Homo sapiens: one gene and its partners. The protein of the gene in region 3 interacts with the protein of the main gene of each other region in a pairwise test. Each region holds a gene or a part of one and is shown on either strand. Other genes may lie near its edges.

Region 1 (9,086 bases), on a different chromosome or scaffold from region 3:
TTTTGTATCCTGAGACTTTGCTGAAGTTGCTTATCAGCTTAAGGAGATTTGGGGCAGAGATGATGGGGTTTTCTAAATATACAATCATGTCATCCGCAAACGGACAATCTGACTTCCTCTCTTCCTATTTGAATACCTTTTATTTCTTTCTCTTGCCTGATTGTCCTGGCCAGAACTTCCAACACTGTGTTGAATAGGAGTGGTGAGAGAGGGCATCTTTGTCTTGTGCCAGTTTTCAAAGGAAATGCTTCCAGTTTTTGCCCATTCAGTATGATATTGGCTGCGAGTTTGTCATAAATAGCTCTTATTATTTTGAGATACGGTCCATCAATACCTAGATTATTGAGACTTTTTAGCATGAAGTGGTGTTGAATTTTGTCGAAGGCATTTTCTGCATCTATTGAGATAATCATATGGTTTTTGTCATTGGTTCTGTTTATGTGATGGATTATGTTTATTGATTTGTGTATTTTGAACCAGCCTTGCATCCCAGGGATGAAGCTGACTTGATCGTGGTGGATAAGCTTTTTGATGTGCTGCTGGATTCAGTTTGTCAGTATTTCATTGAGGATTTTCGCATCGATGTTCATCAGGGATATTGGCCTGAAATTTTTCTTTTTCTTGTCTCTGCCAGGTTTTGGTATCAGGATGATGCTGCCTCACAAAATGAGTTAGAGAGGAGTCCCTCTTTTTCTGTTGTTTGGAATAGTTTCAGAAGGAATGGTACCAGCTCCTTTTTGTACCTCTGGTAGAATTTGGCTGTGAATCTGTCTGGTCCTGGGCTTTTTTTGGTTGGTAGGCTATTAGTTACTGCCTCAATTTCTGAACTTGTTATTGGTCTATTCAGGGATTCATCTTCTTCCTGGATTAGTCTTGGAATGGTGTATGTGTCCAGGAATTTATCCATTTCTTTTACATTTTTTAGTTTATTTGCATAGAGGTGTTTATAGTATTCTCTGATGGTAGTTTGTATTTCTGTGGGATCAGTGGTGATATCTCCTTTATCATTTTTTATTGTGTTTATTTGATTCTTCTCTCTTTTATTCTTCATTAGTCTGGCTAGCAGTCTGTTTATTTTGTTATTCTCTTCCAAAAGCCAGCTCCTGGATTTACTGACGTTTTTGAGGGGTTTTTCGTGTCTCTGTCTCCTTCAGTTATACCTAATGTAGATGATGGGTTGATGGGTGCAGCAAACCACCATGGCACGTGTACACCTATGTAACAAACCTGCATGTTCTGCACATGTATCCCAGAACTTAAAATATAATAATAATAATAAAATCCCCTCTCCTCTCTCTCTCTCTCTCTCGTTTCTGTCTTTGAATAACCTTGACTAATACAATGACTATTTGCTAAAGATAGGCTTAGAGAGAGGCCCAGAACATAAATCATGGCACAGTGAGGGAGGGTTATTTAGAATAGTTATTCTGGGCAATCATACTTGGAGGAGTAAAGGGAACCATGGGACGGGATTAGATCTCTGAGCCTTGATAGTCATGCAGAAGAGTTTAGGATTTATATGAGCAGAAGAATGGTTTATTCAAAGCTGGATTTTTGTAAGATTAGTCTTGAGAACCTTGATACCAGCATATGGTGGGTGTTCAATAAATAGTTGGTAAACTAATGGAAGGGGAAAGGACTGAGGGTAGGAAGGGGACAACGTGGCTTTTGCAGAAATTCAGGCCTAGGATGACAGAGGCTGTCTCCTCCCACACTATCACTTCACGTGTTAAAAGTCATTGTGTGACATGATGACAAGGGTTTATTAGGCATCTGCTGTATATTACTATAGCCATTTGTGAAAATTTCTGCAGTGCTCATTGTACTGGGGAGTAACATTCATCCCTTGGCCAGATGCATTACAGTAGGTACTGTTTTCTGTTTTCACATATATTTCTTACCCCTTGCCAGACACACAGTAGGTGTTTAATCAACATCCACTAAATGTATGTCATGTAAGACTTGATGCCCTCAATGAGTGCTTGAGAATGTTTACTTTATTCCTGCCCTTGTGCCTGGAACTGGTGGGCTGGACAAGCGGGGAGGGGTAGTTGTGGACTGGTGTTTTTAAACTTTATCTTTCAGGCTGGTCTCTTCTAATGATTTTGGTCTTTCTTTTAAAAATATCACTTTTAACGTTGCAACACATGCTATATTCAGATAGTGAGTAGTTTTGAGAATTTAAATCTTGAAAAGACCAGTGGATACCCCATGGGATTATGACTTGCACAGAAGAGACTTAGTAATTTAAAATTGTTTCCACATTGTTAGTACTCTTCATTTTGAGATACAGAGTAGCAAGAGAGACTGCATGGGTAGGAGGGTAGTAAGAGGCTGAGGCAGGAGAGGCAGGAGTTAAAAAGCACTCTGTGCCCCATTTAATAAAGTGTGTTATAGCCAGTGCCACAAATTTGATTTGAACAATTTCTATTTTTCCCAGCAAAGATGTTATTACAGGTCAATCATTTCCATAAGTGAGAGCACATTTCTGGTGTATACTACACTGACAGATGGCTAGAAGACCTCTCTTTCATGATCCCAGGCTGGATAAAAAGGCAATTTACTATCTATAGGACTGTGGGTACACTGGTAATGGAAGAGAACCATTCTTATACAAATAACTCAGTGTTTGAATCTGAACTATCAAATGAATCTGAGCTATAGCCAAATCAATTTGATAAACCATCAGAATATGATTGTACTGGCTCCAGCCTGCAAAGGCAATGCATTAAATTTTCCCCACAGGAAACTGTTTCCCAAAGAAACAGCAATTGTTCGATTGCTTAAAAAAAAACAACCTTGAGTGAGTTCAGAATATCAGGTAAAAACTCAGATGGCTGCTGATGTTCAAGGTCAAGACTCACAAGGGGGAAATGAGGATGCTGAGCTGCTCCTCTGAAACTCGATGAAACTTGTTTGTATGCCCCTGGCTTTCTCTGCATCTATCTTTCTTTGTGTGGAACAGTGCACCCTTGCACCCTCAGGTGTTCAGAGGCTCCCTATTCTTCCCTCAACTACAAATTTTGCCTTCAGGAAAGCAGCTATCATCAGTTTGAGTGTGTGCCCCTTAATTTTCTTAGAATTCCTTGCATATATCCACTGGAGAAAAAGGACTGAGCCAGTGAGGGAGGAAGATTCACCACATTTGGCTTGTGGAGGAGATATTTTGGAGACTGAGCAAGGCTTCCCAATTCCCAATATTGGTCCTAGGGCAGTAATTCTCAGAGAGCACTCTGGACAAGCAGCATCAGTTTCACTAGGAAGATGTTAGAGATACAAGTTATCAGGCCTCAACCCTGACCTACTGAATCAAAAATTCTAAAGGTGGGAGCTGGGTGTTATGACTCACGCCTGTAATTCCAGTGCTTTGGGAGTCCAAGGCAGGAGAATAACTTGAGGCCAGGAGTTTGAGATCAGCCTTGGCAACATAGTGAGACCCTGTCTCTGCAACAAAAAAAATGGCCAGGTGTGGTGGTGCACGCTTGTAGTCCCAGCTACTCAGAAGGCTGAGGCAGGAGGATCACTAGAGCTCGGGAGTTTAACGCTGCTGTCAGCTATGATGGCACCACTGCACTCCAGCATGGGTGATTAAAAAAAACCACAAAAACACCCCCCCAAAACCTACTCAACTCTGAACATGCTGCTCTAGGACAACTGAGAACCACTCACAGCTGAGGTGGCTCATAGCCGAGTCTACTCTGGGAATTGCCCTCAGCTGACTTTCTCCTCCCCAGGAGTTTGGTTCCTCCCCAGGGACAGCCTGCACCCAATAATTCTTGATATGGAGGACTTGCCCCTTACCTTAATTCAGTACAACTTTGAAGGACCATCTTAACTCCAGATCTCCCCATGGGATCAGCTGAGCCTTTTGTTGCAAATGCATTACCCTGATTCTGCTTCCATCAAGGGTTCCCTGTACATTCTGAGAGCACCCTCCGGTAAACCTCCCGCATGCAGATATATCACAGTCTTTGTGTGTGTGTGTGTGTGTGTGTGTGGGAGCGGGGACTGCAATCTGACCCAAGGCACAGTCAAGATCAGCATGATTTGCACCTACTGTGGTCTGAATAGCCTACGCATACTCCTACTCTTACCTCTTAACTCATCACCTGAGGTGGGCTGGTCTACTGCACACCTACACAAGCACCTCTCAGGCCAGGGTTTAGATGGTTTAGTGTATCTGGATGCAGAAGTGAGATGTGGAATAAGCTATTAGTCTTCTTGCATCTCAGGTCAGCAGGGGGAGAGGCTTGAAGAACATCTATGGACTGATCTGAAAGCCCCAGAAAGGGGGGCTTGATGTTAAGGTGAACAATTCTTTTGGCCCCAGGGGGAAAAGAGGAAATTCGCAATTATAGGCTGGGCTTCCAGCCAGGATCCTGCACTGAGATGGAAATATGTGGGAATGTATTATCACTCTCTACCTTTTTAAGTCATGGGGAGTGCTTCCTAATTCCATGGATTTTCTGTAAATTGTATTCCCTTAATTCTAGACAGATGTGTTCCTGTGGTAAGAAGGACAAAACAATGGGCCTATAACTTGAGGACCTTGTAGAATTGCTTCCGATGCTTTCACAGAGGCTCTCTTCCTGCCTGCGTTCACAGTGGGGCTAGATGGGGGATTCAAGTTTTGTGTTCTCTGTTAAACATTCTTATGAGATACATTGTGCAGTATCTTCGCCTGGAATCTGCTTGTGCAACCTCAGGAGATGTTCTTCTGTGCCACGTTTATCTAACATTGACTGGTGTTCTTAGGCTGGGAGGCTGGTGTTAATAGTTATTTTCCTCTCTATTTTAGCTCACAACCAGTTTCAGGGGGCCTCACCGAATAACTTTTAGATGTTCAATTAAACGTATTTATGGCAACATGGTATGGTGGGAATACATGGAATGTGAGGCAGAAGACCTAGTTTCTGGTCCAGACTCTGCCCCTTCTAGTTGCAGTGTGATCTTTAACAGATCACTCTCCTCTGGGTTCTGATTTCTTCAGTTGGATAATGAAGGAGTTGGGGGATCTCATCCAACTTCATTATTCTCGGGAGCAGATAGGTTAAGATGCTATAGATTCAATATTGTACCTGGTACAGGTCACATATATAAACACACCCATCACTGACATATTCTGCCATGAACAGATAGAGATGCCTTCTTAGGAACATTCAAAACTTTCAGGGCTTTTTGCTAAGTGAAACTGACATGCTGCTATTGTGGGGATCAAAGACATCAAAAGTACTTGTCAAAATTCATTTGTCTCCCGAGTACTCTAAGAACAGGGTACATGAACTAAGCAGTACAAGTTTTGAGTACTTTGTATTCTTGAGTACATGGACTATATGCCCAACACTCTCCATTTGTTAGCCCTGGGTCCTTCCTTGTACTTCATAGATAGATCATGACTTGATATATTAAGTTGTATATTTAATGTATTGCCTGACTCCTCTCTATTCCCACCCCCAATGAGAATATAAGCTTTCTATGAGGAGGAACTTTCCTTTGTTTCCTGCATGGCACAAGACTGATGCTTAAAAATTTATCTGATGAGTGAAAAAATATTTATGTGTGTGTGTGTGTTTTATGCTTCAAATAATATTAGGAAATAGGTATTGTTTTGGCCATTTTTTTTAGGTGAGGAAACCAAGGCTTAGAGAGGTAAAAGAATTGGTCTAAACCAAGGCAGTCTGCTCTGTATCTCCGCTTTAATCACACGGATACTCCATTTGTATAGGTTGCCTATCTCAAGCCAGGCATTCTCGAATAATCTTTGAACATGGTCAGGATGATAAATCTACCTTGAAGTGTATATTTCTTCTTCAAAGCAGCAGAATCTCATATATAGATCACAACACACCCTTTATCATTAATAATAAATATTTAAAATTCTGACTCTCCATACCAAGTCTAATTCTAGAGGTACACAGGTTCCAGCCTGAAGGAGAATATTAGCTATTTGGTGTAGACAAAAGTGATGCAGATAGATGGTTGGTCGGTAGGTGGGTAGATAACCACACATGGTAGCCTATGCTAACTGCCAAATAAGAGGTTCAGGCAGGTGGCTTCTAAACGCCTGACTTGACTTAAGGCAGGCTACATAAGGATCATTCAGTAAAACTGTAGATTTATTAACATGTTTATCTATTGCTCTGCTCACCATTCCTTCTTGTACCTCATTCTCTCCTTTTGGGTTCCTTTCTTCATCTTGAAGTACTTTTTTCAGTCAGTAAGTGTAGTAGGTCTTGCTTAGAGCCCAGGAACACATTTTTAAAAAGCCTTTTTGTGATTGTGATGCAGATTGTCCCCCCACCAAAGAAGCCTTAAAGGCCATGAGAGCCACGGGAAGAAGTCACTGATGGCGAGGTTGTCAGAGAGACTTGAGGAGGTAGAGGACTTTGGAATGATGCTTGATGGAAGGGGCAGTGTAGGTAAGAAGAGAAGATGGGAAAGTCACTTTTGGAGGGAAAGATGGAAGTAAGGAAATGACAAGAGGGAGGGGTGCTGATGCAGGGCTGTGAGGCACGGAATGCATCCCAAGGGATTTGGAAAGAGGATCCAAAAATAATGTGTATATAGGTCTCATTGGGTTGAAGGAACCTCCTGAGTGTTGAGGATGATGGAGAATTGTGCTTTCCTTTCCAGGGAAGAGACACATGATCGAGTGGTTGTGGGTCTGTACCATGAGTTAGATCAGTTTAAATCCCTGCTGTAACTCTTGTATAACCTTGAGTGGGTGAATTAACCTCTCCAGGGAAGCCAGTTTTTCCTTCTGTAAAACGGGAATAATAGCTCCTACCACAGGGGGTGATTATAAGGATTAAACAAGAAAATGCATCTTAACTTCTGAGAACGCCATCTGACACTCTGTACGTGCTCATTACATGTTATTATTAGTGTTGCTTTTTAATGGAGAGTTAGACCGTGGATAAGCCTTAAATTGTCTCTATAAATTTTTGCAGATGACACGAATAAAAATTGAACTTGATGGCCAGCCCTGTGTTGGAAGCTTCTCCCCTAGCTGCAGAGAGTTGACTTCTAACTTACACAAACTGAGCTCTTACACACAGAAATGGGGAAAGCTACTCACAGAATGACTGGTCCAGAGGCTCCGTGGAAAACATCATTAGGCAATTCTTCTAAATTATTATTATCGCTTAGATTCCTGGGGATGGGGTTGAGGAAAGAAGAAGGAAAACACAAAGCCACATAAATATTGCTGTTGTAAGAGCCATTTCCCTTTAAATGGCCTTGAAGAATAGTCAGGGCTACTTACAGCTCATCTAGTTGGGTTCCATTGAATGCACAGTTGTGTATTTCTTGAATCCCATTCTTATTCAGCCATCTGAAATAAAAGGCCTATTAAAAAACCAATAATGTCAGATGCAAACAATACACGGGTTTCATAATTGGAAGCACTGAGCAAGGGCAGACAGCACAGGTTAGTGGCATAAAGAAAATGCCACTTTTAAAGCTTGGGGACACGGGTGGGAGGAAGACTGATTTATTGCTGTATAATCTTTTGTAACTTTTGAAGTTTGTATTACTTGCATGTATTACCTATTCAAAGGATTAAATGAAATTTAAGTTTGAAAGGCATACTTAGGCAGAGCAGCCTGGATTCTATAACTGTAAGGTCTTTACACACATCATTTGTGTGTAGAGAAGCAATGCGGGGAGCGACAGATCTTTCTCATCCTGAAGGACAGGAATCGTACAATTATTGAACAAGTGTTTATAAGACAGAGAAAGAACATTTTGTGTCACCTTTCTCTAAGGCCTTAAGCCTTTCACCCATGATCACCCACAGCAGCAGGCCTGGCTGTCATCAAAAGTGATCTAATTAAGTTGTCAGACAACCTGAACATCTCCTGTGACCCATAGGGACCTGGTTATTGGAGGTTTGTGGAGGTGGCTCTGGGTTAAGCCAGAAAGGAAGAGAAATCAATTACAGAGAATGTGGGCTGTGGCAGGGTGAGGTGATCTGAATGAGCAGGGGAGGAGGTTCTGGGGGAGGTGGAGATGGGTGTAGAACAGCCATCCTGATTGCGCTAAGAAGGTCAGTGAGCAGGGTTCCCTGGACAGGGGAGCCCAAGGACACCTTGGGCTACAGCTCTGCCTTGCTCTGCTCCTGAGTGGATCTGAAAACAAAAACAGATACCAAGGTCAGGAGAGCTTAGCCCGAAGAACCTCTGACTACCTGCTCTTGTTTTGCTGTCAGGTTCTTTTCCCTGTCCAGCTTAGTGGGCTTGCAAATAACACTGTACAGAAAGCTGACCCAGAGAAGCTCCTGTGCATCCAGGACTCTCTTTCCTGGGCTGCCATGGGTAGCCAGAAAACACTTAAAATCACAGGAGAACAACTGTATGTCTTTTTCCTCCTCTTGAAAACCAATTACCTAAAAAAATCCAGAAAGGGGCGAGGCAAATCTTTTAAAACATTCACAATCAATTGGTGGGTTCTGATGGCAAAGAAGTGGCTATGCACCCCCAATGCCATTTGAGAAAGCCTCTCCCAGGCACATCTGGACTCCTGACTGTTGCAGGATAGTGGGAGTTGCTGAGGTAGCTGTGGCATGTGGATCCCTGGGGATTTGAATCAAATACAGGATTCAGCAAACTTTTTCTGTAAAGGGCCTGATAGTAAAGTTTAGGTTTTATGGGCCAAAAGGCAAAAATAAAAAATATTATATAAGTACTTTATGTACTTATAAAACAATTACCACAATTTTTTATTGACCAAATTCAAAGTGTAATAATTGGGTATTTTTTTTTTTTGTAATATAGGCCTAATATTGAGAAGAGAATTTTTAGTGGGGGATAACATTTTGCTTAACTTAGATCTAATGTTAGTGTTTCCTGTCTTAGCTCATGAGCTGGATTTGGCCTCTGGGTTATATGTAGTTGGCTGACCCTTAATCCATACAGGTTCCACCTATTTGCCTATTGACTAGATAATTAATATTTCTTGCATATTACTGTCCTGTAAATCGATGTTGCTATAATCAAATAAAACATAAACTAATTTTAAATAATTATTGTATTCAAATATCCCTTTGTCTTTATGGATTATCTCAATCAACAGATACCATTATATGG
Region 2 (9,491 bases), on a different chromosome or scaffold from region 3:
CCCTCACCTCCTCGTGAGGATGAAGAGAAGAGTGGGTGTCAAGTCTGCACCAAGACATCAGGAGGAGGACAAGCCAGAAGCTGCTGGATCCTGTCTGGCACCAGCAGACACTGAGCAACAAGATCACACGTCTCCGAATGAGAATGACCAGGTCACACCGCAACACCGGGAACCGGCCGGTCCCAACACCCAAATCAGGAGTGGCTCTGCTCCACCAGCAACTCCTGTGATGGTGCCTGATTCCGCCGTGGCGAGTGACAACAGTCCAGTGACCCAGCCGGCCGGCGAGTGGTCAGAGGGCAGCCAGGCTCACGTCACTCCGGTGGCCGCTGTCCCTGGGCCTGCAGCGCTGCCCTTCCTCTATGTCCCTGGATCTCCCACTCAGATGAATTCTTACGGGCCTGTGGTGGCCCTTCCCACAGCGTCCCGTAGTACCCTTGCCATGGACACCACAGGACTTCCTGCACCTGGCATGCTGCCCTTTTGCCATCTCTGGGTACCGGTGACCCTAGTGGCTGCTGGGGCTGCACAGCCTGCTGCCTCCATGGTCATGTTCCCCCATCTCCCAGCTCTGCACCACCATTGCCCCCACAGCCACCGCACGTCACAGTACATGCCAGCTAGCGATGGGCCCCAGGCGTACCCAGACTACGCAGACCAGAGCACATAGAGGGCAGCATTTGGGCAGAATATGTGCTGGTCAATAAATGTGTCAGAAAATGAGTAATTTTCTGACTGCACAAAAAAGTCTTCATGGTCTCCATCCTTTTTCTTTCTTTGCAGTCCAGTACCCCCCTCCGACATCTTTGGCTTGCATGATAGAGACTTCAGCCTAACACGCCTCCCTGGAAAAGTGCCCAGGAGATACTCGAGCAGGTGCTGGGTTTTAGGAAGCCCCTCAGACATCCCGCCTCTACTCATTAAAAATTACCTGGAGCTGGCCGGGCGCAGTGGCTCATGCCTGTAATCCCAGCACTTTGGGAGGCCGAGGCGGGTGGATCACGAGCTCGGGAGATCGAGACTGTCCTGACTAACACGGTGAAACCCCGTCTGTACTAAAAATACAAAAAATTAGCCGGGCGTGGCGGCGGGCACCTGTAGTCCCAGCTACTCGGGAGGCTGAGGCAGGAGAATGGCATGAACCCGGGAGGCGGAGCGTGCAGCAAGCCGAGATCGCGCCACTGCACTCCAGCCTGGGCGACAGAGCAGGACTCCGTCTAAAAAAAAAAAAAAAAAAAAATTACCTGGAGTTGCTCGCTGAGTGCTAATTGTGCTGCTAGCATTGCCGGCCTAGGGTTCACAATGACTCTGTGTTACTGGCCATTCCTTGTCATGGCGGTGCCTTTATATAACAGGATCTTCACTTTACATACAGATGAGATCACGTCTGGCTTTGTCATTGGGTTAAAAAGTGCCCTTGATAGTTGTGGAGGTGACACATACTACCAAGGAGTCCTACGGGTTTGCAGTTTAGAGGGTGCTCATTAGTGTCTGGTGGACAGGATTTATGTTTGGCTTTTATGTCTGTACTGGATCTGGTGGGGTTTTTTACTTCCTTCCTTGATTCCCCCACTATGCCCCCACTTTTTCTTTCTTGTTTCCCTTCCTTCCTACTTTCCTTTCCTCTCCTTTTTTCTCTCTCTCTCTCTTTGCTTCCTTCTTTCCTTCCTTCCTTCCATCTCTCTCTCTCTCTGTGCTTGCTTGCTTCCTTCCTTCCTTCCTTCCTTCCTTCCTTCCTTCCTTCCTTCCTTCCTTCCGTGTCTCTCTCTCTCTCTCTTTCCCTCCCTTCCTTCCTTCTCCTTTCTTTTGGAGTCAAAAATTAATTTAAAAGATGTCATGTCATGTTTTAACTTAGGAAGCAGCCTTTTCTGCTCACTTGGGGTGTTCATCTTAGAACACATGCTATCATCGACGAACTTCTTTGACTGATCAGAGGAAATAGATTCAAGTTCTTACCGTAGACACAACTGGGCACAGACATCAAAAGAGCTCTGAAATCAGGGCGTGCAGAGAGCCCCAACACCCACACACCAGAACCCAGAGGTATCCCTGCCTGTGATTTTTAATTTGACAGTAGGTGGCAGAGTCCTGGGAGACGTGGGAAGAGGCCATAAGAGAATGCAGACATGGGAATGGATTAATCCAGAGTCCAGCCATGGTCTGCAGGTGGATCTCCCTGTCTCGGCCTGCTCACTTACAAATGGGTGCTCATTTACAAATCGGTGTGAATCACATTTCATCATTTGTGAGCTCCTTAGTTTCCAAGAAGTACAGTTTTCTCATGTGTTTCTTGGACTTTATGCATATGCCTCCAGAGTTTGAATCATGCAAAGATGCTGCCACTTAAAAACCTCTTTCCTACAAACTTACACCCCTCCGATCGTGGTTTTCCTGTGAATCTCAGCTGGGCACGATGGCTGACGCCTGTCATCCCAGCACTTTGGGAGACTGAGGCAGGTGGATCACGAGGTCAGGAGTTCAAGACCAGCCTGGCCAAGATGGTGAAATCCTGTCTCTACTAAAAATACAAAAAATAGCCGGGCACGTTGGCAGGCACCTGTAATCCCAGCTACTTGGGAGGCTGAGGCAGGAGAATCGCTTGAACTCAGGGGGCAGAGGTTGCAGTGAGTCGAGATCACGCCACTGCACTCCAGGCTGGGAGACAGAGTGAGACTCCATCTCCAAAAAAAAAAAAAAAAAAAAAAATACTGTTAGAAGAATGGAAAAAACTATATAGATGGAGAGAAAATATTAGTAATCTGATATCTGATAAAGAACTCATATGCTGAATAAATACCAAACATTTAACATTCAACCTTTGAAAACAAAGAATCCAACTAAAGATGTAAATGATTTGAAGACATTCACCAATGAAGACACGCAGAAATACACATACATTCACCAATGAAGATACACACATGAAAAGATGATCACCATAATTATTCATTAATAATGCAAATGTCAACAGCACTAAGATTCCTCTACCCACCTATTACAATGGATAGAATTCAAATACCTGAGAATATCAAATTCTGGAGAGGATGTGGGATTCTCATTCATAGCTGGTAGACAAGAAAAATGTTTCATTCACTCTAGAAGGCCTTTTGGCCCTTTCTTATGTAGTAAAACATAGACTTACCTTTAGATCCATCAGTCGTACTACTAGGTTTTACCTAAGTGAATTGGAAACTGGTTCTCACATGGAAAATCGTGTACACGAATGTATTAGTAGTTTATTCATAATCACCAACCAAGATGTCCTTGAAGAGGTGAATGGATAAAACCAATGGTACTTCCACAAACTGAAAGTGTATTCAAAGTTCAATCTACCCTCAAATATTCCAGGACAGGAAATTTTGGAGGCCAGTTCAGCCAAGTGGCAAGGGAAAATGAATCACCATCTTATCTCAACTCTTCCAATGCATCCAAAATGGGCAATTGTTTAACTCATTCTCCCAGGCTCGCTCTCCTAGATTCATAAACAGATGAAGGCACCCGAGCACTCATGAAAAGAATTTGTGAGGCAAGTGTTCACACACATCGCAGCAAATGTCATAAACAGATAATCACATATCCAACACAACAGTGGATTAAACGAACAAGCTGCCTGTATGCATGGAATAAAAATAGGATTAAATGTTAGAAAAAAATTCAATTCTAACTCCCTGCATACAAGATAGACTAGAAAAAAACATTCAGTCATGACAATGGGTACAGGAAAAGGCTCTGAAATGAATTCTATGTAAGTACAAATTAACAATGTTTAGCAAACTAACATTAAAAGGAACTTCCATTTCCTAAAATTGGCAGCAAGCATACATAAATGTGAAATGTCAGAAGCTCTGCCATTCACGGCAGTGACAAGTCGTTGACATATGCTGTCACCACTACCACCTACATCTGCAGTGAATATCAAAATGAAAAAGAGCCAGAGCTATGGATGTCAAGATGAAAATGAGATATGAAGACTGCAAAGAAATAGAGTATTTGTTAACTATATGATTATCTACATAGAAAATTCAAAGGAATAGACACATTGAATATTCAAATGAATAAAAGACTTCAGAAAACATCATACAGAAGGTCATTAAAGCAAAATCAAGAGCCTTGCCACACAAAAGCAACTTAGTATATAAAATAGAAAATAGAAAATGCACCATTCACAGCAGCATTAAAATCCAAAATGTAAATAAGAAGAGCCTGACAAGACCTTTATGGAAGCAACTGTGCAAAGTTGCTGATAGACTCAGGAAATAATCTCAAGTAAATGGATCTGTATACCATATTCCTTGATGGGGAACAGAATATGGCAAAGATGTAAATGCTACTTAAATTAAATACAGAGTGAGTGCCTTAACTGTCATTGCCAAAGTGACAACCAAGCTCAGGTTGCTGTGCTCTGCTCCCCAAATCAACCCCGGAAAAAATATAGGAGGGAAAAGATTAAAAAAAAAAACCCATCAAAACAGAGAAAGCCCTGGGGATGACTGAAGACTGTGCTAAACTAGTACTTGTGTTTTGGGTCCAGGGAGCAGCAGGGAAATCGAGGAGGTCTGTACCCTGCATAGATGGCAGATTACAGGATGGATAGGAGAAAGTGTTTAACATTCCACCCCACATCATCGCGCAATCTGAGGCAGCACCACAAAATCTGATGCCAGTAGCCCTGGAGTAATATCAGGACACCAGGAAATTTGAGTTGATTGAGACACTATGGCTCCAGAGTTCTGCTAACAACCACCTGAAACAAACTTAGTAGGAGAAGACCAGCCTTCCAAAAAATTATTATTTTAATGGAATATAAAGAATGAACTAGGAATAGAATAGTAAGTATGTGTGAAGGCCACATACTATGAGTAGATATTAATAAAATATGTGTGCATATATATAGTATAAAGTCTAGAAATACAAACGAATATGTAGCTAAAGATATATACATGTAAGTAAATATAAGATATAAAGATATATATGCGTGTATGTATACATATAAGCATAGATGTATATAATGTCTAAAACAGGTATGTATATAAACGTAGATATAAACAAAATGTACAATACCATATATAATGTACACATACAGTGTAAAATTTATTACCATGTGAATGAGAATTAAAATATGAAAATCGCTAATCTGGACTCTGCTGTGTTCGATACCTTCAAAACACATGGCTTCTCCAAATCTCTTGCTGCTGCTCAGCCTCTTCCGTGTAAAAATAAATCTTTTAGGACAAAAGGTTTGCAAAGTCTAGCTCTGGCTGGGGAGGAGCCCCCATGGGATGGTGTGCATCTTCTCTCACAGGTCCTACAATCACAGGTGCTGCAGCCCCCCAGGGAGCATCTAGCCTGGGACCCGCAGCCATTCTCTGCAACGCGTGCAGCTGGGCAAATGCTCAAAGGTGACATAAACAGATCATCTCCCACACATCACTTCATCAAAGAGCCAGGAGCCAGGAGGAGAACCCTCCTGAGAGGGGACTGAAGGTCCAACCTCCCCACATAGAGGGGCCACAGAATCCAGCTCAGCCCTTCCTGTCAGCCCTGGAAGACCCTGGCAATGTTGTCACCCCGACCACACCCCTCCCCTCACTGCCACCTCATGTGACTGGGAGTCAGAGACTTGGTCCGAGAGGAGCAGACCCAATGGGCAGAGAATGGGGATCGAGACCCAGGCATCAAGGTCAGGACCCCCTGAGGGATGACTGAGGGCCCCTATCCCCATCCCCACCCCTACTCCGCCAGAACCCGGTTCAGCCCCTACTGGCAACCCAGGGAAGCTCCAGGCTTGGGGGCCGGATGTGACGTCACTGACGTGCGCACTGGGGGTCAGAGAGAAGGGAGAGGCCTCCTTCTGAGGGGCGGCTTGATACCGGTGGAGGTAAGCTGGCCGAGGCTCTGTGAGGAGTCAAGGTGAGGTGCTGAGGGAAGACTGAGGATGTCCCCACCCCAGATAGAGGACCCGAAAGAACCAAGTGCCGTCTCTGCTCCCAGCCCTGGACCACCCGGGGGCCGATCTGGGGCTGACTTGTGAGGCTGGGCCGACCCCCTCCCTCCGCCGCTCAAGCTGCTGGGCACTCTGGAGTGAGAGCTTGGTGTGACCAGGGCAGGGCTGGTTAGGAGAGGGCAGGGCCCAGGCTCTGCCGGGCATCAAGGCCAGGACCCTGAGGGAGGCTGGGCCCCCCCAACCCAACCATGACCTACAGCCCCAGGTTCCCCAGCCCCATCCTCAGCTCCACTCTACACCCCACCCCACCCCACCCCACCCCACCCCAAACTCCACCCCACCCCCCCAACTCTCCCGCGGCAGAATCTGGTTCCGCCCCTGTTGTCAACCCAGGGAAGCCCCAGGTGCCCGGATGTACGGCCAGTGACTCCCACACTGGGGGTCAGAGAGTAGCGGGGGCCTCGCTGTGAGGGGCGGGTCGATATCGGTGGAGGGAAGCGGGCCCAGGCTCTGTGAGGAGGCAAGGTGAGACCCTGAGGGAGGACTCAAGACCCCCCGCCCCAGATAGAGGACCCCAAATAATACAGCGCCGCCCCTGTGCCAGCCCTGGACCACCCCGCGGGGTCGGGCGTATCAGGCTGGGCCCAGGCTCTGACTGGCATCAAGGTCAGAACCCTGAGGGAGGGCTGAACGCCTCCACACCCCTAACCCAGCCACCACCACCATGACCTACAGCCTCAGGTTCCCCACCTCCATCCTCACCCCCCCCCCCACTCCACCCCACCCCCAAGTCTCCCGTGGCAGAATCCGGTTCGGCTCCTGCTGTCAACCCAGGGAAGCTCCGGGTGCCCGGATGTAAGGCCTCTGACTTGCGCACTGGGGGTCAGAGAGTAGCAAGGGCTTGGTTCTGAGTGGTGGCTGAAGATCGGCAGAGGGAAGCGGGCCCAGGCTCTGTGAGGAGGCAAGATGAGACGCTGAGGGAGGACTGAGGACGCCCCCACTCCAGATAGAGGGCCCCAAATAATCCAGCAGCACCCCTGCTGCCAGCCCTGAACCACCCCGGGGGCGGACTTCTCAGGCTGTGGGCCACCCTTCGCCACCCCACCACTTAAGCCCCAGGGGACTCTGGGTCAGAGCTTGGTGTGACCAGGGCAGGACTGGTTAAGAGAGGGCAGGGGCCAGGCTCTGCCAGGCATCAGGGCCAGGACCCTGAGGGAGGGCTGAGGCCCCATAGAGGGAGTCACTGCCCCTGCAGTGGACCCTGGGAAGTTCCGGGCATGGCGGTCAGGCAAGCGGATCGTGATATCTGCATCCTGGGCTGACCGAGGGAAGGGGCTTGGTATCGTTAGCGTGGCCGCGGGAGAACAGAGGGAGGGCCCAGGTCCTGCTGGGAGACAAGGGAGGCCTGAGGGGACCCAGTACCCCAGGACAAGGGGCCCACCCCGCCCCTATCTGAGACCGAGGCCCCTCCTCATTCAGCCTCGGGAATCCGACAGATGGAGACTCAGGTCCACAGAGGGGTGGGGCCCAGCCCTCTAGGAGACCAGGGAAGGAACAAGACGGAGGACAGAGGGGACCCCGGAGTCCAGCTCAGTGGGGATCTTGGCCTGGGCGATCCCGGGCACGGTGGCCGCATGTGGTGCATTGTGGCTGGTGGGATCGGGTGTCAATGGGAACAGGGCTGTGGTATGAGGAGTGGGGCCTCAGGTGAGCAGAAGGAGGAGTCCCAGAGGCCTGAGGAAGGATTCACCAGACCTCTCATCCCAGACCTAGGAAACCTGCCCCTGCCGTCAGTCTTGGAAGGCCCCAGGCAGGACGGTGAGGAAGGGAAGTGCCCCCTCCACCCCCAACACACACTTTCTCAAAGAGGGTCTAAGGGAGAAATTGGCCTTGGTCTGCAAGACTCACCTCTGGTTCAGCAAAATGGAAGGGGCCAGATTCTGTCAGAAGCAAATATGAATACCTAGAGGACACCCAGACCGACGAGGCCCCCTGGAACCTGCTCCTTTGGTCAGCCTTGGGTATCTCATGCATGAGTGACCATGAGGTGGCCCCTCACTTCTGCCTCCCGGGTCTCCGGGAGGTGGGGGCCTTGGTCCGAGGGGTTTCCTCAGCTCAGCAGAGGGAGCCACACCTGGTCAGCACAGGGTGGAATCCAGGGTCTTCCAGGAGTGACGGGGAGGAAGTTTGGTGAGGACTGAAGGTAAGAAGGTACCTCCACGCTCTCAAAAAAGAAAGGACCTCACAGACACTGGTGTCACCTGTTCTCAGCCCCAGGTGGCCCCAGGCAGGAATGGCATGAGGCATGCTCTCATTTCTCCCACGTGACTGGGGGTGAGAGGTCTCAGGGAGGTGAGTACCTTGATCCCAGGGGGCACTGAGAGATCCAACAGAGGGCTCCACACCTGGTCAGTAGAAGGAGGACTCCCAGGATCAGCAGGACCCAAGGTGTGCCCCCTTCATGAGGAATGGAGGTACCCCCAACGCAGAAAGAAGCCACCCCACAGAGTCTAGGTGAACTCTGTTCTTAGATCTGGGGGCGGGGGGGGGCCTGATCAAGGATGGTGCTAAGTGGCAAGCTCATTTGTACCACGGCAGGAAGTTGAGGAACCCTCAGGGGGATGAGGCGTTGGTGTAAAGGGAGATGTCTGCTCATCTCAAGGGTTTGAGGGTCGAGGAAGTAGAAGCCCCAGCAGGAGTAAAGATGAATAACCCGCAGGAGGACTTTGGAACACCCACCTCATACCTGAAGGGTTCAGCTGGTGGGGTCAGCCCCGGACACCCCACGCAGGGGTGACATATGTGGGGCCTCCTCACCTCTGTTTCTGGATCTCAGGGAGGTGAGGACTTTGTTCTCAGAGGGTGTGTGTGGACAAAACAGGGAGGCCCTGTGTTCGACAGACACAGTGGTCCCAGGATTGGAGAGCAGTCCAGGTGAGGAACCTAAGGGAGGATCGAGGGTACCTCCAGGCCAGAGAAACTCTCAGATCAAGAGAGTTTGCCCTGCCCCTACTGTCACCCCAGAGAGCCCGGGCAGGGCTGTCTGCTGAGGTCCCTCCTTTATCCTGGGATCACTGGTGTCGGGGAGGGCTGGCCTTGGTCTGAGGGGGCTGCACTCACGTCAGCAGAGGGAGGGTCCCAGGCCCTGCCAGGAGTCCAGGTGCAGACTGAGGGGACCCCACTCACCAAACACAGAGGACCTAGCCCCACCCTGCCCCTTGTGTCAGCTGAGGGAAGCCGCTGGGTGGATGGACTCCCCTCACTTCCTCTTCAGGTGTCTCCTGGAGATAGGGCCTCAGGTCAACAGAGGGAGGGTTCCAGACCCTGCAGGCATCAAGATGAGGACCAGGCAGTATCCTCACCCCAGGACACATGGACCCCATTGAATTTAGACATCTCTTACTGTACTTCCGAGGAAACCCTGGGCAGGTGTGGGCAGATGTTGGTTGGGGCATGTCCTTCTGTTCCATATCAGGGATGTGAGCTCCTGATCTGAGAGACTCTCAGGCAAGTAGAGGAGTAGAGTCCAGTCCCTGCCAGGAGAAAGGTC
Region 3 (9,086 bases):
AAATTTTTCCTTGGCTGTGATTGAAGGAAACATGACTTAAGGCAAATCATTTATTAAGTAGAGTGGACACCTAATAAACTGATAATATATTAATTTGGATATACATGGCTGTGACCCAGAAAAAGTCATTTACATTTGATCACAGAAATACACTTAGCATTTGATGTAATAGGACACATACTAAAGAGATTAATTTCCTGTTATCTTACTGTCAGTGTTTTTTTAGAACCACTTAGCTCTCTGCTTCCAAAACCTACTTTGTTTTGTTTTGAGATGGGGTCTCACTCTGTTGCCCAGGCTGGAGTGCAGCGGCATGATCATAGCTCACTGCAGCTTTGACCTTCTGGGCTCAAGGGATCCACCTGCCTCACCCTCCTGAGTACCTGGGACCACAGGCGTGCGCCACCACACCCAGCTAATTTTTAAATTTCTTTGGTAGAGACGGGTTCTTCCTGTGTTGCCCTAGCAGATCTCAAACTCCCAGGGTCAAGCAGTCCTCCTGCCTCGGCCTCCCAAAGTGCTGAGATTACAGGTGTGAGCCACAATGCCCAGCCCTCCAAAACCTACTTTGAGTTGTACTTTTCTTCCTTCACTGTGGTGTGCCACAAGCCATGCACACTAAGGAGGAAGGTAGCTTCCATCTCCAGTTCACTTTTCTTTTTGCATTGTTACTTACGCTTTAAGAAATACAGGTTTAAAACTAGATTATAGGTAACTTGTAACATGTACTTACAGAACCTAAAAAGAAGTTTTTACAATTCCAGGACATTCTTGGCATTTTTCTCAAGCAACTAAGATTGCAGTTAAATAAGTGTTCCTCTGTGCTAGCTTATTTAAATTCAAGAACTTTTGCAACATGGTTTATTATGTTGATTTTTTGTTGTGTATGTCTAAACTTCCAATTCATCTGTGTCTTCTAAAGTGCACCAACATTGATCAGTTAGTGTGTGAGGGCAGAGGCCTTCATCATAGTAATTTAGTGATCAATAGTGTTTCTTAATAGGATGGGGCATTTTAGAGCTTTTTTTTTTTAAATGTTAACTGTGGTTTTAATAATTAGATTTCTTCTATGTGGCTCATGGTAACTGACCATGTGTTCATATTTTCTTCTAAACTTTTTAGGCGTACAAATCCATTTGGAGAATCTGGAGGAAGTACAAAATCTGAAACTGAAGGTAAGACAGATGTGCAGCATTCATATATTTTAGAACTGCTTCTCAGCAAACTGTGAATAATTTATTGTTTATATTTGCTCTGCTACTAAGCTCAGTTTTAATGCTATCTTTACTTCAGAATTTCCTCTACTTACTTATAGTACACTTGAAGCAACAGAACTTAATCTGACTTAAGATGTTGTGATTCATACAAAACGATAGACTCTCATACTTTTGACTTTATAGTCAAATTCAGTGCCTAAGATACCTTTCAAGCTTTTCCTAACAGCTGATGTTTCTCTTCTGGTACTGGAGCATAAATTTTGTTTTTCCGCCACTAACTATTTATTTGAATTCTAAACTTACAGAAATGCTGTAAGAACCACCAGTTGTTGTGTGTTTGTGTGTGTGTGTGTGTGTTGAGACAGGGCTCCCTATGTTGCCTAGGCTGGTCTCGAACTCCTGGGCTCAAGGGATCCTCCTGCCTTAGCCTCCCAAAGTGCTAGGATTACAGGTGTGAACCACCACGCCTGGCCTCAGAACTGCCAGTTGTTGAAGCATTACTTTTAGCTATTTGAATTTGAAACCCTAATTTTCCTATAACTTGGAATACTGTAGTTAGGAGTTATTTTGAAATGTCTCCCTTAGGCTGTTGAATTTTTCACTAGAAAACCTAAAAGGAGGCAGTGTATTTTATTCTTTTGGAAAAGAAATATGGCGAAAAAAATAAAATGTAAATTTATACAGTAAAAAAAAAATATGTAATACACCTTGTTCTATTATAGATTCTATTCTTCATCAGTTATTTATTGTCCGATTCCTTGGTTCAATGGAGGTGAAATCAGATGACCATCCAGATGTTGTTTATGAAACTATGCGCCAAATCTTAGCTGCCCGGGCCATCCATAACATCTTTCGTATGACAGAATCGCATTTATTAGTCACTTGTGACTGTTTAAAGTAAGTAAAACCCTCCCTTAAAAAACTGTAGAAAAAACATTTACATGATTTCAGCCTAATTAAAATTTGTTTTCCAATTTTTAAATTATTATTTTAGGTTAATTGATCCACAGACACAAGTTACAAGGCTCACGGTGAGTTCCACATGATTTAAGCTTTGTTTTAGGTCCCTTTGTATATATACACATCTTACAACTTGATAATAATCCTGATCCTGTATATTCAAGTGTGATAGTATCAGCTATGATTGGTCTTTGGCTGTTGTAGTTAAGTCTATGGCCATCTCCAAAAAGTTGTCATTGAACATTTTATGTAACTTAAAAGAATTAACACAATTCTTTTTGTAATTTTTTTAACACAGTTCTTTTTGACTTTGTAAAATGTGTTAATGACTAATAAAACAAATGTAATATTCAACAACCTTTTTCTGCTTGTTAATTCAAACCAAATATGACATTACTTGTTTCTGCATTACAAGTCTGTTAAAATAATTGGCTTTAATATATTAAAATATTTATATTTTTAGAACTTAGCATATGAGTTTGTCACAAGTGCTGCTGTAATGACTTGTAAGATCTCATGTTTGCTTCTGATGTTTTCTGTGGCAGTTTCCATTACCTTGTGTAGTTTTGTATGCTACACACCAGGAAAATAAGCGCCTTTTTGGATTTGTTCTTCGGACATCAAGCGGGAGAAGTGAAAGTAATCTGTCATCAGTCTGCTATATATTTGAGTCAAACAATGAGGGGGAAAAGGTACATGGCTTTTCAGAATATCTCTGTCATAACCACTTACTAATTGATTCTTACTAAGATTTAATAATAATTAAATTCTTACAAATTAAATTAGTTAGTAATTACTGATTGAATTCTTTACAATTTATACAAATTTATGAGGCACATGTGAATTTTGTTACATGTATAGAATGTACAGTAAGCAAGTCAGGGTATTTAGGGTGTCCATCATCCAAGTACAATACATTTTTGTGAAGTATAGTCACCCTACTCTGCTGTCAGATATTAAATATATTCTTTCTATCGTAATTTATGGTTGTACCCTTTAATCAGCTTTTCTTCATCCTCCCCCTTTCCTCATCACTCAGCCTTCCCAGTCTCTGTTGTCTGTCATTCCACACTCTGCCTCCACGTGATCAATTTTTTGGCTCCCACATACAAGTGAGAACATGTGATATTTGTCTTTTTGTGCCTGGCTTATTTCACGTAAGATAATGACTTCTAGTTCCATCCACGTTGTTGTGAATGACATGATTTCATTCTTTTTATGGCTGAATAGTACTCCATTGTGTATATGTACCACATTTTCTTTATTCATTTATCTGTTAATGAACATTTAGATTGACTTAATATCTTTGCTATTGTGAATAGTACTACAGTAAACATGTGAGTGCAGGTATCCTTTTGATACAGATTTCTTTAATTTTGGGTAGATACCCAGTAGTGGGATTGTTGGATCGAATGGTAGTTCTATTTTTAGTTTTTGTTGTTGTTGTTGTTTTTGAGACGGAGTTTCACTCTGTCGCCCAGGCTGGAATGCAGTGGTGCGATCTTGGCTCACTGCAACCTCTGCCTCCTGGGTTCACGCCATTCTCCTGCCTCAGCCTCCCGAGTAGCTGGGATTACAGGTGCCTGCCACCATGCCCGGCTAATTTTTTGTATTTTTAGTAGAGACGGGGTTTCACCGTGTTAGCCAGGATAGTCTTGATCTCCTGACCTCGTGATCTGCCTGCCTCAGCCTCCCAAAGTGCTGGGATTACAGGCGTGAGCCACCATACCCGGTCTATTTTTAGTTTTTTGAGAGATCTCCATACTGTTTTCCATAGTGGTTGTACTAGTTTATGTTCCCACCAACAGTGTATGAGTTCCCCTTTTTTCTGCATTTCACCAACATCTGCTATTTTTTGTCTTTTTAGTGATAGCCATTCTGACTAGGGTAAGAATGGCTCATTGTCATTTTGATTTGCATTTCTCTAATGATTAGTAATGTCGAGCATCTTTTCATATACCTGTTGGCTGTTTTTGTGTCCTTTAAGAAATGCATATTCATATCCTCTGCATACTTTTAAGTGGGATTATTTGATTTTTTCCCTGTTGAGTTCGTTGTATATTCTGGATATTAGTCCCCAGTTGGATGAACAGTTTGCAAATAATTTCTCCCATTCAACAGGTTGTCTGTTTACTCTGTTATTTCTTTGGCTATGCAGACACTTTTTAGTTTAAGTCCCATTTGTTTATTTTTATTGCCTATACTTTTGAGGTCTTAGGCATAAAATCTTTGCCGAGACCAATGTGCAGGAGAGTTTTCCCTTCATTTTCTTCTAGTGTTTTTTTTTTCTATGGAAAATAACCTTTTTTTTTTTTTTTTTTTTTTTTTGAGACAGACTCTTGCTCTGTTGCCCAGGCTGGAGTGCAGTGGCACAATCTTGGCTCACCGTAACCTCCACCTCCTGGATTAAAGTGATTTTCCTGCCTCAGCTCCCAAGTAGCTGGGACTACAGTTGTGTGCCACCATGCCCGGCTAATTTTTTTAGTAGAGACAGGATTTCACCATGTTGGCCAGGCTGGTCTTGAACTCCTGACCTCAAGTGATCCACCTGCCTTGGCCTCCCAAAGTGCTGGGATTACAGGCATGAGCTGCCACACCCAGCTGGAAAAAGAACCTTTAATAGAACAATTATTGAGAATATCGTACTAACAAAGTTTCTCAAGAGACTAATTAGAGCTAAAATGGTGAAAGTAGGATGATCTTTGTTTTTCGTTTTTTGTGGGTACAAGGGGTGTGTGTGTGTGTGTGTGTGTGTGTGTGTGTGTATGCATTTTTTTTTTTTTTTCCAGATGGAGTCTTGCTGTGTCACCTGGGCTGGAGTGCAATGGCGCGATCTTGGCTCATTGCAACCTCCGCCCCCTCGGGTTTAAGCGATTCTCCTGCCTCAGCCTCCTGAGTAGCTGGGTCTATAGGCATGCGCCACCACGCCCAGCTAATTTTGTATTTTTAGTAGAGACAGGGTTTCTCCATGTTGGTCAGGCTGGTCTCAAACTCTCGACCTCAGATGATCCGCCTGCCTCGGCCTCCCAAAGTGCTGGGATTACAGGTGTGAGCCACCTCGCCCAGCCAGGTGTATATATTTATGCAGTACATGAAATATTTTGCTACACTTATGCAATGCGTAATAACCACATCATGGAAAATGGAGTATTCCTTCCCTTAAGCATTTATCCTTTGTATTAGAAACAATCCAATTATACTCTTTTAGTTATTTTTAAATGTACAATTATTATTGACCGTAGTCCCCCGTTCTATCAAATACCAGGTTTTATTCATTCTATTTTTTTTTTTTAATCATTAACCATCCTCCCACCCCCCATCCCCACACTACCCTTCTCAGCCTCTGGTAACCACCCTTCTGTTCTCTGGCTCCATGAGTTCAATTGTTTTGATTTTTAGATCCCACAGATAAGTGAAAACATGCAATATTTGTCTTTCTGTGCCTGGCTTATTTTGCTTAACATAATGACCTCCATGTTCCATATATCTTATTGCAAATGACAGAATCTCATTCTTTTTTATGGCTGAATAGTACTCCATTGTATGTAAGTACCACATTTTCTTTATCCATTTTCTTTATCCATGTATCATCCATTCAAATGACAGAATCTCATTCTTTTTTTCTGGCTGAATAGTACTCCATTGTGTGTGTGTGTACATTTTCTTTATCCATTCATCTGTTGTTTTTTTTTTTTTTCCATTCATCTGTTGATGGACACTTAGGTGGCTTCCAAGTTTTAACTATTGTGAACCGAGCTGCAGCAAACATGGGAGTGCAGATGTCTCTTCAATATACTGATTTCCTTTTTTTAGGTATATACCCAGCAGTGGGATTGCTGGATCATATGGTAGCTCTATTTTTAGTTTTTTGAGGAACCTCCAGACTTTTCTCCATAGTGGTTATACTAATTTACATTCCCACCAACAGTGTACAAGGGTTCCCTTTTCTCCACATGCTTCCCAGCATTTGTTATTGCCTTTTTGCTATAAGCCATTTTAACTGGGGTGAGATGATACATTGTAGTTTTGATTTGCATTTCTCTGATGATCAGTGATGTTGAGGACCTTTTCATATGCCTGTTTGCCATTTGTATGTCTTCTTTTGAAAAATGTCTATTCAAATATTTTGCCCAGTTTTAAATCAGATTAAGGTTTTTCCTATAGAGTTGTTTGAGCTCTTTGTATATTCTGGTTATTAATCCCTTGTCAGATGAGTAGTTTACAAATATTTTCTCCCATTCTGTGGCTTGTTTCTTCACTTTGTTGATTGTTTCCTTTGCAGTGCAGAAACTTTTTAACTTGATGAGATCCCATTTGTCCATTTTTGCTTTAGTTGCCTGTGCTTGTGGGGTATTACTCAAGAAATTTTTGCCCAGACTGATGTCCTGGAGAGTTTCCCCAATATTTTCTTGTAGTAGTTTCATAGTTCAAGGTCTTAGATTTAAGGCTTTAATCCATTTTAATTATATTTAAAAAAATTTAAAAAAAAATAAAAAAAATAAAAAAAAATTTTTTTAAAAAATATTTTTGTATATGGTGAGAGAGAGGGGTCTAGTTTTATTCTTCTACATATGGATATCCAGTTTTCCCGGCACCATTTATTGAAGGGACTGTCTTTTCCCCAATGTATATTCTTGGTGCCTTTGTCAAAAATGAGTTCGCTGTAGTTGTGTGGATTTGTTTCTGGATTCTCTATTCTGTTGCACTGGTCTATGTGTCTTTTTTTTTTTTTTTTGCCAGTACCATGCTGTTTTGGTTACTATAGCTCTGTAGCATTGTAATTTGAAGTCAGGTAATGTGATTTCTCTAATTTTGTTATTTTTGCTCAGAATAACTTTGGCTATTCTGAATCTTTTATGATTCCATATACATTTTCAGATTGTTTTTTCTATTTCTGTGAAGAATGCCATTGGTTTTTTGATAGGGATTGCATTGAATCTATAGATTGCTTTGGGTAGTATGGACATTTTAACAATATTGATTCTTCCAATCCATGAACGTGGAATATGTTTCCATTTTTGGTGTCCTCTTCAATTTCTTTCATCAGTGTTTTATAGTTTTTTGTTTTTTTTGTTTGTTCTTTTGAGACAGAGTCTCATTCTATTGCCCAGGCTGGAGTGCAGTTGCATAATCTCGGCTCACTGCAATGTCTGCCTCCCAGGTTCAAGTAATTCTCATGCCTCAGCCTCCCAGGTACCTGGGATTACAGGTATGCGCCACCACCACCTGGCTAATTTTTGTATTTTTAGTAGAGATGAGGTTTCACCATATTGGCCAGGCTGGTCTCAAACTCCTGGCCTCAAGTGATCCACCTGTCTCGGCCTCCCAAAGTGCTGGGATTACAGGCCTGAGCCACTGCGCCCAGCCTGTAGTTTTCATTATAGAGATCTTTCACTTTGGTTAACTCCTGGGTATTTAATTTTATCTGTGGCTATTGTAAGTGAGATTACTTTATTTATTTCTTTTTCAGATTGTTCACTGTTGGCATATAGAAATGCTACTAATTGTTGTATGTTGATTTTGTATCCTGAAACTTTACTGAATTCATCAGTTCTAATAGTTTTTTGGTGGAGTCTAGGTTTTTCTAAATATAAGATCATCATATCATCTGCAAACAAGGATAGTTTGACTTCTTCCTTTACAATTTGGATGCCTTTTTTCCTCTCTTACCTGATTACTCATCTTCCATCTAAAAGGTGGAAAGGCTTTTTGTTTTTCTGCATTCAGTATGATACTAGCTGTGAGTCTGTCATATATGGCTTTTATTATGTTGAGCTATATTCCTTCTATACCAAGTTTTTTTGAGGGTTTTTAATCATGAAGGGATGTTGAACTTTATCAAATGCATTTTCAGCAGTAATTGAAATGATTAAATAGTTTTTGTCCTTTATTCTGTTGATGTGATGTAGCATATTGATTGATTTGCATATGTTGAACTATCTTTGCATTCCTGGGATAAATCCCACTTGGTCATGATAAATGATCTTTTTAATGTGTTGTTGAATTTGGTTTGCTAGTATTTTGTTGAGGATTTTTGCATCAATATTCATGAGATATATTGGCCTGTAGTTTTCTTTTTTTGATATGTCTTTGTCTGGTTTTGGTATCAGGTAATACTGGCCTCGTAGAATGAGTTTGGAAGTATTCCCTTCTCCTCTATTTTTTGGAACATTTTGGGTAAGATTGGTATTAGTTCTTCTTTAAATGTTTGGTAGAATTCAGCAGGAAAGCCATCAGGTACTGGGCTTTTCTTTACCAGGAGACTTTTTATTATGGTTTGGATCTTGTTACTTGTTATTGGACTGTTCAGGTTTTGGATTTCTTCGTGGTTCAATCTTGGTAGGTTGTATTTGTCTAGGAATTTATCCATTTCTTCTTGATTTTCCAATTTACTAGCATGTAGTTGCTCATAGTAGCCACGAATGATCCTTTGAATTTATGCAGTATCAATTGTAATGTCACCTTTTTAATCTCCAATTTTATTTGAGTCTTCTTTTTCTTAGTCTGGCTAAATGTCAGTTTTATCTTTTCAAAGAAACCAACTTTTTGTTATGTTGATCTTTTGTATTGTTTTCTTCATGTCAGATTCATTTATTTCTGCTCTGATCCTTATAATTTCTTGTAGTATTTTTATAGTTTTGGGTCTTATGTTTAAGTCTTTAATGTATTTTGAGTTGATTTTTGTGTATGGTGAGAGGGAGGGGTCTGGTTTCATTCTTCTACATGTGGCTCTCCAATCTTGCCAGAACCATTTATTGAAGAGGATATCCCTTCCCCAGTGAAAGTTCTTTGTCACTTTTGTTAAAGATCAGTTGGCTGTAAACAAGTGGCTTCGTTCCTGGGTTCTCTATTCTGTTCCATTGGCCATGTGTCTTATTTTTATAACAATCCCCTGCTGTTTTGCTTACT

The links.
Region 1: the proteins of APPL1 (region 3) and FSHR interact in a two-hybrid assay, tested with the Homo sapiens proteins (2 studies listed by BioGRID).
Region 2: the proteins of APPL1 (region 3) and MAGEA9 interact in binary tests that used the Homo sapiens proteins (3 or more experiments, as listed by UniProt).

Annotation. Positions count from the first base shown.
Region 1 is NC_000002.12:48,975,834-48,984,919, forward strand, and holds part of FSHR (follicle-stimulating hormone receptor isoform 1 precursor), read right to left. Parts: intron 7,334-9,086; coding exon 7,265-7,333; intron 7,154-7,264; coding exon 7,079-7,153; intron 1-7,078. UniProt on the Homo sapiens protein: G protein-coupled receptor for follitropin, the follicle-stimulating hormone. Through cAMP production activates the downstream PI3K-AKT and ERK1/ERK2 signaling pathways.
Region 2 is NC_000023.11:149,776,121-149,785,611, forward strand, and holds the start of MAGEA9 (melanoma-associated antigen 9), read left to right. Parts: upstream 1-5,809; 5' UTR 5,810-5,875; exon of another isoform or gene 5,876-5,907; intron 5,908-6,362; exon of another isoform or gene 6,363-6,466; intron 6,467-9,491. Other genes in the region: HSFX1 (heat shock transcription factor, X-linked), read left to right, coding at 1-670. UniProt on the Homo sapiens protein: Not known, though may play a role in embryonal development and tumor transformation or aspects of tumor progression.
Region 3 is NC_000003.12:57,257,906-57,266,991, forward strand, and holds part of APPL1 (DCC-interacting protein 13-alpha), read left to right. Parts: intron 1-1,122; coding exon 1,123-1,175; intron 1,176-1,939; coding exon 1,940-2,114; intron 2,115-2,211; coding exon 2,212-2,248; intron 2,249-2,722; coding exon 2,723-2,869; intron 2,870-9,086. UniProt on the Homo sapiens protein: Multifunctional adapter protein that binds to various membrane receptors, nuclear factors and signaling proteins to regulate many processes, such as cell proliferation, immune response, endosomal trafficking and cell metabolism.